Regions from separate parts of the Homo sapiens genome. Here region 2 is linked to region 1. The links come from fine-mapping of genetic effects on gene expression. Tissue or cell type: aorta. Region 1 holds a variant in brackets; the other region holds the start of a gene. All regions are shown on one strand. Distances are between the middles of the regions.

Region 1 (4,402 bases):
ATCTGTGCTCCCATATAGCCTGGTAAGGAAGCTGCCCTTTGTGGAGTTCCCTCAGGGCCAGTCCCCTCTCCTCAACATTGCTTCTCCTCCTGCAGAGGCCAGCACAGTGCCTCCTCACCATGAGAGTGTTTCTCACATGTTTCACTAATACACCTTTAATGGCAGAAGACAATGTTGAAGCCCCCTGAGTCCTCTCAGGAAGCAGCCTCCATCTCTCATCCCTCCACAAGCACATTTCTTTGCTCCTGCTTTAACATTAAAATTCATGAACCTTTGCATTGCACATAATCATATATGAGTGTTTATTTTAATATAAAAACCATGATTTCTCCCAAGTCTTCCAGCGCATGCAATACTCTGGGAAGATGGGCGGCTTCCTGTTGCCTCCAATGAGAGCTCTAAGTCTGACATTCCCACTGTGGAGTACATGAAAATAGGGCTGGACAGATAGTTCCAAGAGAAGGCCACCTCCCCACCAGGCCAGCTGAGCTTCAGAGGATGGAGATGGAGGGGTTGGGCTTTCAGCTTGTACCTTATTCCCCGGCAAGGCTCTTGACAACTTGCAAAACATCTTCACACCATGAATACCCTCTCACTTGAAGTCACAATGAAATGGAAGGACAGGGAGGGCAAGAGTTATTATCCCCACTTTACAGTGAGGTTCTGGGCTTTTTGATGCTCCACAGTTAGAAAATAATGAGGCAGAGCTAAAAACCCCTTTAAATTTTCCCAATACATGGAGTGTCCTGTTATTGGGACAACTGGTCAACCACTGCTACTGAGGCAGGAATTCTACCCTACACAGAGCACATGTGGAGCTCACTTGGAGACAGCTCAAGCCTCGTCTTCCTGAGGACAAGACCTATCCCCCTAACCAAAACATACCCCCCACCACCCTGACACACACCAGCCCCTGGGCTTGCAAACTCATGCTTCAAGACTAAAGTCCTCAGGAGCCCTTCTCTGACCCCTTCCAAAGGCCAGTAATTCTTGCTATAAACCTATGCCAGCCAAGAGGACCCCAACACGTACCCAGAGCTATAAAGCCTGCCTTCTAGCCACAGGGCACTGAAGGCAGCTTTCTGAATATGCTGAAGAGGAAGCTGGAGAAAGAAGTTTTTTCAAACAGTTCTTCACCTCCTCCACTGACTGTGCTTTCCTGGCCCACTTGGCATTCCCCTGCCTGCAGAGGGAACAGCTCCTAGTTACGGCACTCAACTGGAAATGATGGTGAGTGCAGCGGACCTGGCTCTTCCACAGAGCCCCCTTTCAGGGGAGAGCATGGATGGCAGAGCAGGGCATGGGCTCACCTGCTGGATTGTTGCCCTCAGGCTGCCAGGCAGCATCCTCCACGTGGGCCCTCTGAGAAGAACACTCTAGGGGTGATGTGCCTTTCTCTTTTTTTACTTTTTTTTTTTTTTTTTTTTGAGATGGAGTCTCGCTGTCTCCCAGGCTGGAGTTCAGCGGCTCGATCTCGGCTCACTGCAGGCTCCGCCCCCGGCGTTCACGCCATTCTCCTGCCTCAGCCTCCCGAGTAGCTGGGACTAGAGGTGCCCGCCACCTCGCCCGGCTAATTTTTTGTATTTTTAGTAGAGACGGGGTTTCACCGTGTTAGCCAGAATTGTCTCGATCTCCTGACTTCGTGATCCGCCCTCCTCGGCCTCCCAAAGTGCTGGGATTACAGGCGTGAGCCACCGCGCCCGGCCGGTGATGTGCCTTTCTATAGGAACTGGCAACCCAGGGACTCTCCCACTATGGCTCCCCCACCAGAGCCCCTGCCTGAAGGATGCCGTTGCCCACCCTGGGGTAGACAGTGACCTAGAGGGAGGCCACACACTGGAGGATCTTCCTTAGCAGAGGTCAGCTATGCCACACACCACTCTGAGACTCAGTTTCTTCATCTTCAAAATGAAATAAAATCATTGGATCCACTTAGCCTTCCTTGGGTCTTGGAGGTGGAGAATCACTTCCCCAAATTCATCTCCAAAAGTGATTAGATGAACTGACCCCAGGCGAGAGGAAGGAGATTTAAACCAATGCCCATAAATGGCCATAATCCTCATGGAAAAAGTGGATCATTTCAATACAAATGGGAAGGGCCATGATGGTGATCAGGCTCAGATGCTATGGAGGCAGACGAAGTCCCACAGTCCCCTGGGGAGGTGGTCCAGGGGCAGAACACCACCCACTCTGCTCTCCACCTCTGTAGGTGCCAGGATGAGCTTGCACTAACTCTGTGGCCAAGAGGGCGAGGCATATAAATGGGGCACAAGAAATGGAAGAGGTGAGAACTGTTGCCACTAGAGATGGCACACCCCCTCCATGACGACATGGGGACTCAGGCC[C/T]GGTGTCACCAGAGTGGCTTTCAAGAGAAGCAGGAAGTCTGGGCTTATATGTGAAAGTTCCCAGTTTTTAAAGGTGGGCAACTAGTTCCAGTAAAATAACAAAATCACCCAGCCAACTTTACATGAACCAAACGAAATTCATTCTCTCCATGTGCCTGTGATTGAGGGAAAGTGGGCTTCCTGGGTTCTCAGGGATCCAGGGAGGGAGGGACAATTCCACAGCCTCAATGTCACGAGGAGAGAATGCCTGGGCTGGGGAAGCCAGCGTGTGACGGATGTGGCCTTTGGGGAGTGGAATGCAGGGGAGAATAAGTCAGCAGGTGGGTCAGACAGCTCTGAAGCCTTGCTAGAAAGTTCTAGCCTGAAACAAAAAGCTGCCAGAGGCTCCCTCCTCCTCACACCTCCTCCTTGCCACCAGGGCTGGTCTCTGCAGGCCGGCAGCTACAGCAGGATGACTTGCAGGTTTTGCTGGCAGAGCAAGCTCCCGCCTGGCTGGGGCAGAGAGCAATTCCTCTGGCCACTGCCTGTCATGCCATAGCTGCTGGACCTCTCAAGTGACTGCCTGGGGTCTGGAGTCTGGAGTCTGGAGTCTAACTATGAGTGGGACTGGGGGGTCAGGCCCAATTCAGCTTGACTGGTCCAGCTCTCCCAGTCCTTAGCGTTCATCTTCCCTCCCCTGCCAGATGAATCTCCTTTCCAGGCTCTGCTTCCCCAGCGATTCCCAGACAGAGACAGTCCATCTCAGTCACTGGATATTGGCTAATTGATTGGGTTTTTCTGCTCCTGTTCCAGAGTCAATTGAGAAAGTCCTCAGACACCACTTTGAAGGGGAAAGATGACTCAGGTGGGATAATTTCTAATTGCCCTAAATTCTGCTCTCATGGAATTGGAAGGGACTTTGTAACACACCCCCAGCCCCTGCTTTCACACAGGGACCCCATTAAAGCATCCAGAGAGGCAGGAATCTACCAGGTTTCCCAAACCTTGGAAGAAAGGTCCCCTCCCAGTCACCTCCCCCTAGGGAGAAAAGTAGAGCATCCTAAGGGGAGAGGTCTCCGCCCCTGACCACGACCACAATTGTGAGACCTTCCTCTCTCCCTTCGCTTAACTGACAGAAATGTTTTCCTCTTTTTGAAATGTGGGAACAAGAAAGCCATTTCACTGCTAAAAAACAGACTTGGAAGCCGAGGATCAGGCCACCCTTAAGAAGGCTTTGTTGAGTCTCCAAAATATTCCACAAAGTGTTGATGTAAACAATGCACTACTAATTAAATGTTACAAAAAAAAATTCAAGTACACTGTTCCTTCCTCAAGTCTTTCTGAATCTGCAAACTTTAGACTTTAACCATGAAGTTCATCTTGCAAGTTTTAAACAAATTTTACTTAAGTTTAATCAAATTTTACTTAAGACACTTCAGTAGAACTCTCATTCCCCAAATAAAGAGTTTTAATACAGAAGAGCGGATGGCTTAAAGCACCTGATTTCCCTCTCATATAACCACTTGTGGTAATGAACTTAATAAGATAAAGGCATTGCCATTTTCCATTAAATTATATTGCTCTCAAAAGAAATCAAAATCAAAACTTTAAATATTTTAAAAATCCATTTCAAATCATGGACATTAAGAGATGTAATCTGGAATACTGCCTCCATTGCTTGACACATAAACAGACTTCAGAATATCACATCATTAAACCTAAGTTTTCTTTTAGTAAAATGAAGTTAAATAATAGTCTTTATGAATATCCAGAGACCTGTGCACTTATAATATGCACACCTGTTTGTATATTATACTTTAATATTAATCTATCTCTCTGTCTCTGTCTCTTTCTCTCTCTGTCACTCTCACTCTTTCATAATCCTTGTTCATACTCATCTCCCGGGAATACTGTGAGAATCAGAGGGGCTGATGTACTTGGCAACGATCTGTAGACCACCAAGCACTAGAAGAGGAAGAGGACACCCATCATCACAGAGCAGGTGGCCTCACACACCCACACCTATCAGAACTGGGACTGGCAAGAGGCAGTGGGACGGCATTTAGAGAAGAGGCTGG
Region 2 (4,402 bases), 420 kb after region 1:
CATAGGGCTGTCACCCCGAGAGAAGGGAGGCAAATGAGGTGAGCCCTGAGTTGAATGCCCCAGCTCACTGCCCAAAGGCAGTTGCCAGAACACAGAGAGGGAAAGCCCAAATAGTCTGGTTGAGTTGAGCAGGTAGTTTGAAGTTCAAGATCAATGTGCAGGGCAGAGAGGAGGGAGCTGCACAGATAGTGAGCAAGCTCCAAAAGAAAATCTGTGGTCTTTGGTTGAGTACTGATCAGTACTTATGAGAAAACTACCTGAGGCTGGAGAAAGAACCACTGGAAAGCAGCAGGCTGAACAATGCTCAGAACTTACCCAAGGCTGGTAATAGTTCATGTTCCTACCAGCCAGAGTAGAAAAGCCTCAATAGAGTCCCTAGAGAGGTATTGCCTCAGTAGTGGGCCAAATTAGCCCTAGACTGAAGACTGCTCAGGATCTGCCCTAACAGTTTAAAAGTGAGACATGAAGGATCCAATGATTTTAAATAACTGCAGTCCAAAATGAAATCCAATACTTCTCACACGAATACAAAAAATTCCAGCATTCAACAATGCAAAATTCAGTGTCCAGCATTGCAATAAAAATGAATCAAGAATTTTTATACCCAATGATAATATCTTTCATAAAGGAAAAGTAATTTTTCAAAACAAAAGCTGACAGAATGTAATGCCAGCAGATCTGCATTATATGAAATGTTAAAGAATGTTCTACAGGCAGAAGGAAAACCAAACTGTGGATCTACACAAAGAAATGAAGAGTGCTGCAAATGACAAATATGTAGCTAAAATACTCCCCCCCCCCCTGTTTAATCCCTTAAAAACTAGTTAAAACAATATTTATACATATACAAAAATAAAATGTATGACAACAGTAGTATAAGGAACAGGAAGAGGAAAATAGAGGCATACAGTTGTAAGGTTTTTATATTCTACATGAAGTGATATATTAAGATAGACTGTGATATAATAAAATACATGTATTGCAAATCTTATAGCACCCCCTGAAAAACAAGAGTTACAGCCAATAAGCCAATAGCGGAGATAAAATGGAGTAACAAAAGGTGCTCAGTTAAACCAAAACAAGGTAGCAAAAGAGGGAAAAAGAACAGACGAGACAAATAGAAAACTAGGTAGGTTTAAACTCAACCATATTGACAATTACACTAAATGTAATACATCTAAACCCTCAATCAAAGACAGACATTTGCTGATGGGATAAGAAAGCAAGCTCGAACTATATGATATCTGCAAAAAACAAACTTTAAACATAAAGACACAATAGGTTAACAGTAAAGAATGGAAAAAGATATATTCTCACAAGTCAAAAAAAAGCTGGAGTTACTGTATCACTATCACACAAAGTAGATTTCAGAACAAATAGTTTACCAGTCATAAAGAAGGAACATTTCATGAGGAAAGGGATCAATTCATTGATATGACGTAACAATCTTAAATGCTTATGTACCAAACAACAGAGCTTCAAATTTTCTAAAATAACACTGCTAGAACTAAAAGGAGAAATAGACAAATCCACAACTATAGTTGGAGATTTCAACACTCCTCTCTCAATAATTGAGACAGAAAATCAGTAAGAATATAGAAAACTTGAACATTATCAACCAACTTGAACGAACTGACATGTATAGGACACTCCACCAATAGCACTTTCCAAGCACTCAGGAAACATTCACCAAGATAGGTCGTATGTTGGGCCATAAAACAAGTTTCAGTAATTTCAAAAGATTTAAACTATAGAAAGCATGCACTGATAAAAATAGAATTAAACTAAAAATTATAGAAACCTATGTGGGAAAACCCCAAATATTTGGAAACTAAACACGTTTCAAAACATGGTATGATTTAGCCTTTAAAATGATCTCTCATACTGCTAAGTGGAAAATAAATGAGAAAGACAAGGGCAAATGCAGGGAAACCCTTTAAGAGGCATTTACAGTTGAGTGTCATGGACTAGAGTGGTAGTGGTGGTGGCAATGAGAAGGAGTCAACTGTGAAAGGCAAGTTAAGATTTGCTCATAAACTGAATGTTGGGATGAAAAAGTGGATGACACCAAGATTTTCAGCTTGAATGAAACTATTGAAGGCTAGGAGTTGATATTTATTAAGATGGGTGCGCTAGTAAAAGGATTTGAGGGGAAAGATTAGGGGTTTTGAACTTGTAAAAATTGAGATGCTGTAGACACACAGACACATCCAAGAAGAAAAGTCAAATAGATAGTTGAAATCCAGTGTTCCCAGGGTATGTGGGCTAAATATATTTTGGGCTTCTATCAGCATATAGATACTAGACTAACTGAGATCAGGAGTCACTGCAGATAGAGCAGGGGTCCAGAATTGAACATTGGGACATTCCAAATTTAGAGGTTGGAAGAATGAGGAAGGACCAGTGGACATGAAGAGCAGCAAGGCAGAAGTGAGATACTGAAAGATGGGAAGTTCATAAGGAAGAAAGTGAGCAATTCATCAAATTCTAACATGGGATTGAAAATTGATCACAGGAAGTGGTTGCATGAGGCTGGAGTAAAGGGAGTTGCGGACAAGGTAAAGTATGCCAAAGGGCACAAGATTTCTTTGGCGGGCGGGGGGGGGTTGTAAAAGTCAATTATGGTAATGGTTGTGAGAACTGAGTAAGAGTAGCTGACCTTGGAATCACAGTAACAGGAGGAAGGGCAGAGCATGTGAATGTGTATGAAGGAAGGGAGGAAGGCAGAGGTGGGAACTTGTGGCAGTTCTCATTGCTTCCCTTTATTCAATTAGGCAGCATGGTGACCAGCAGAGTGAGGAAAGGAGATGAAATAGAGAAATAAAGTAAGTATACTTAATGGGCACCCTGGCCCCACCTATGATTTGTAGCCATGAGTTTAAACATAATAATGACTGTACTTTTTCAGCCAAATCTGGTGGTGCAGGCACAGGGCATGGAGAAGGCTGGGTCTAACTGAGGTGGGATCACACAAAGCTACACTCATGAGAAGCAATACAACACAGGACACGGTTTATATTGCTGAACACCAATATGTCACTTTATTATTTGGATTTTTTTTCCCATTTGTCACATACCTGTCAATGTTTACACAATGAGGGAAATCAACCAGCATTGGAAGCAACTGACCAAATCAGTTGATAATTCTGTACCCTCTTAACACACATCAATTTTCACTTGGTAGGGATTATCTTTAATTCGGTCTCACAGCTATTCTTAAAATTGGTGTCAAGATTGTCACATCTTTAAATACAGATAGAATTGCCAGAAGTACATAATTATATATATATACACACATACAGAAAAATACAAGACTGTTTTTCCACAATATTTAATTTATACACTACTGTAACTATATGCAACTTTTGAAGACAGGTTAAGGGGTACAAGTAACTGTTTAGAGCAAGTAAGTAGTTTGGTCCAATATTATCTTAATGTAATGGTTTTTCGCTCCCTCCCTTTTATGTGACGACATACTATGACATACAAAACATGCACAATCATTCACTTATAAACAAAGGAGTAAGACACCACTCAGACTGACATTTGTATACCCCAAGGGTCAACCACACAACTAATAAGGCTATAATACAGCTATGCAGCATAAATGGTCAACACTGCTGATCCTAAAGTGAGCACCATATATACATCTGAATATAAAAAACCATTGAAACCAAACACATATGGGTTAGTTAAAAGGTGCCATTCCAAGGCTATACATAATCACAGGAAAAAGTATTTACACTGCTTGGAAAACAGCTGCAACAAAGAGTTTATTGCCAATGCCCTTTATAAACTTCTCTCCTATGTTTAATACAGATGTTACGCTCACTATCTATGTGAACCACACATCTTATTTCTGGCCCTTTATAAGATCCCTGCTCAAGAATTTCAAGCAAATATGTTCTATGGCTTCACCCACACATCTATTCTCATAGCTTTCAAATTATAAATATCACAATGAACTAGAGCTGTAGCTTAAAACATCTAGCCTAGGTCTAGAAAGTAAAATAAGTATTTTAAGTATCATTTTTACTTAGTTTAGTAAGTATACTGTGAAATTCAGAGTTCTGAGTAAAATATATTTATCCTAAAGTAGCAGAGTCAGTGTGTACTTGAAGAAACAGTGACCACAGCAATGCAGTTCTTTGGTGATGTGCCCACTCTCTGAATTACAGGACCAGATGCGTCTCAGTCCGTCACCTCAGACACATGACTCGGGGCTGAAGAGTGGGGAAGGGCCCTGGGTCCCAGCCACATGCTATCACCAATGTTGCTAAGCACTGCTTTTAAGACTCCCAGGGCACTGCATGAAAAAACAGCAACTGGCCCCTTCCATAATCAGCAATTTGCAATATACAGTGTCCTACAAGATAGAATGCCACAACAGATGATTATCTGG

Evidence for each region. PIP is the estimated chance that this variant, and not a neighbour inherited with it, causes the effect. A credible set is the group of variants that fine-mapping cannot tell apart.
Region 2: SNRK-AS1 starts here. The variant in region 1 is the best candidate, but not a certain one, in a credible set for the expression of SNRK-AS1 in aorta (GTEx, PIP 0.57).

What each region holds. Positions count from the first base shown.
Region 1 is chr3:43,771,812-43,776,213 of GRCh38, reverse strand. No RefSeq gene overlaps it. Among named protein-coding and RNA genes, the nearest start is that of ABHD5, 83 kb to the right of the region's middle. RefSeq lists an enhancer at 2,357-2,883. The variant C/T (reference allele first, on the strand shown) is at 2,346.
Region 2 is chr3:43,349,754-43,354,155 of GRCh38, reverse strand. It overlaps SNRK-AS1 (SNRK antisense RNA 1), which reads left to right and starts at 2,194. Exons shown (of 3, transcript NR_046757.1): 1 at 2,194-2,558; 2 at 2,775-2,825; 3 at 4,179-4,402. SNRK (SNF related kinase) reads right to left here. Exons shown (of 7, transcript NM_017719.5): 7 at 3,013-4,402.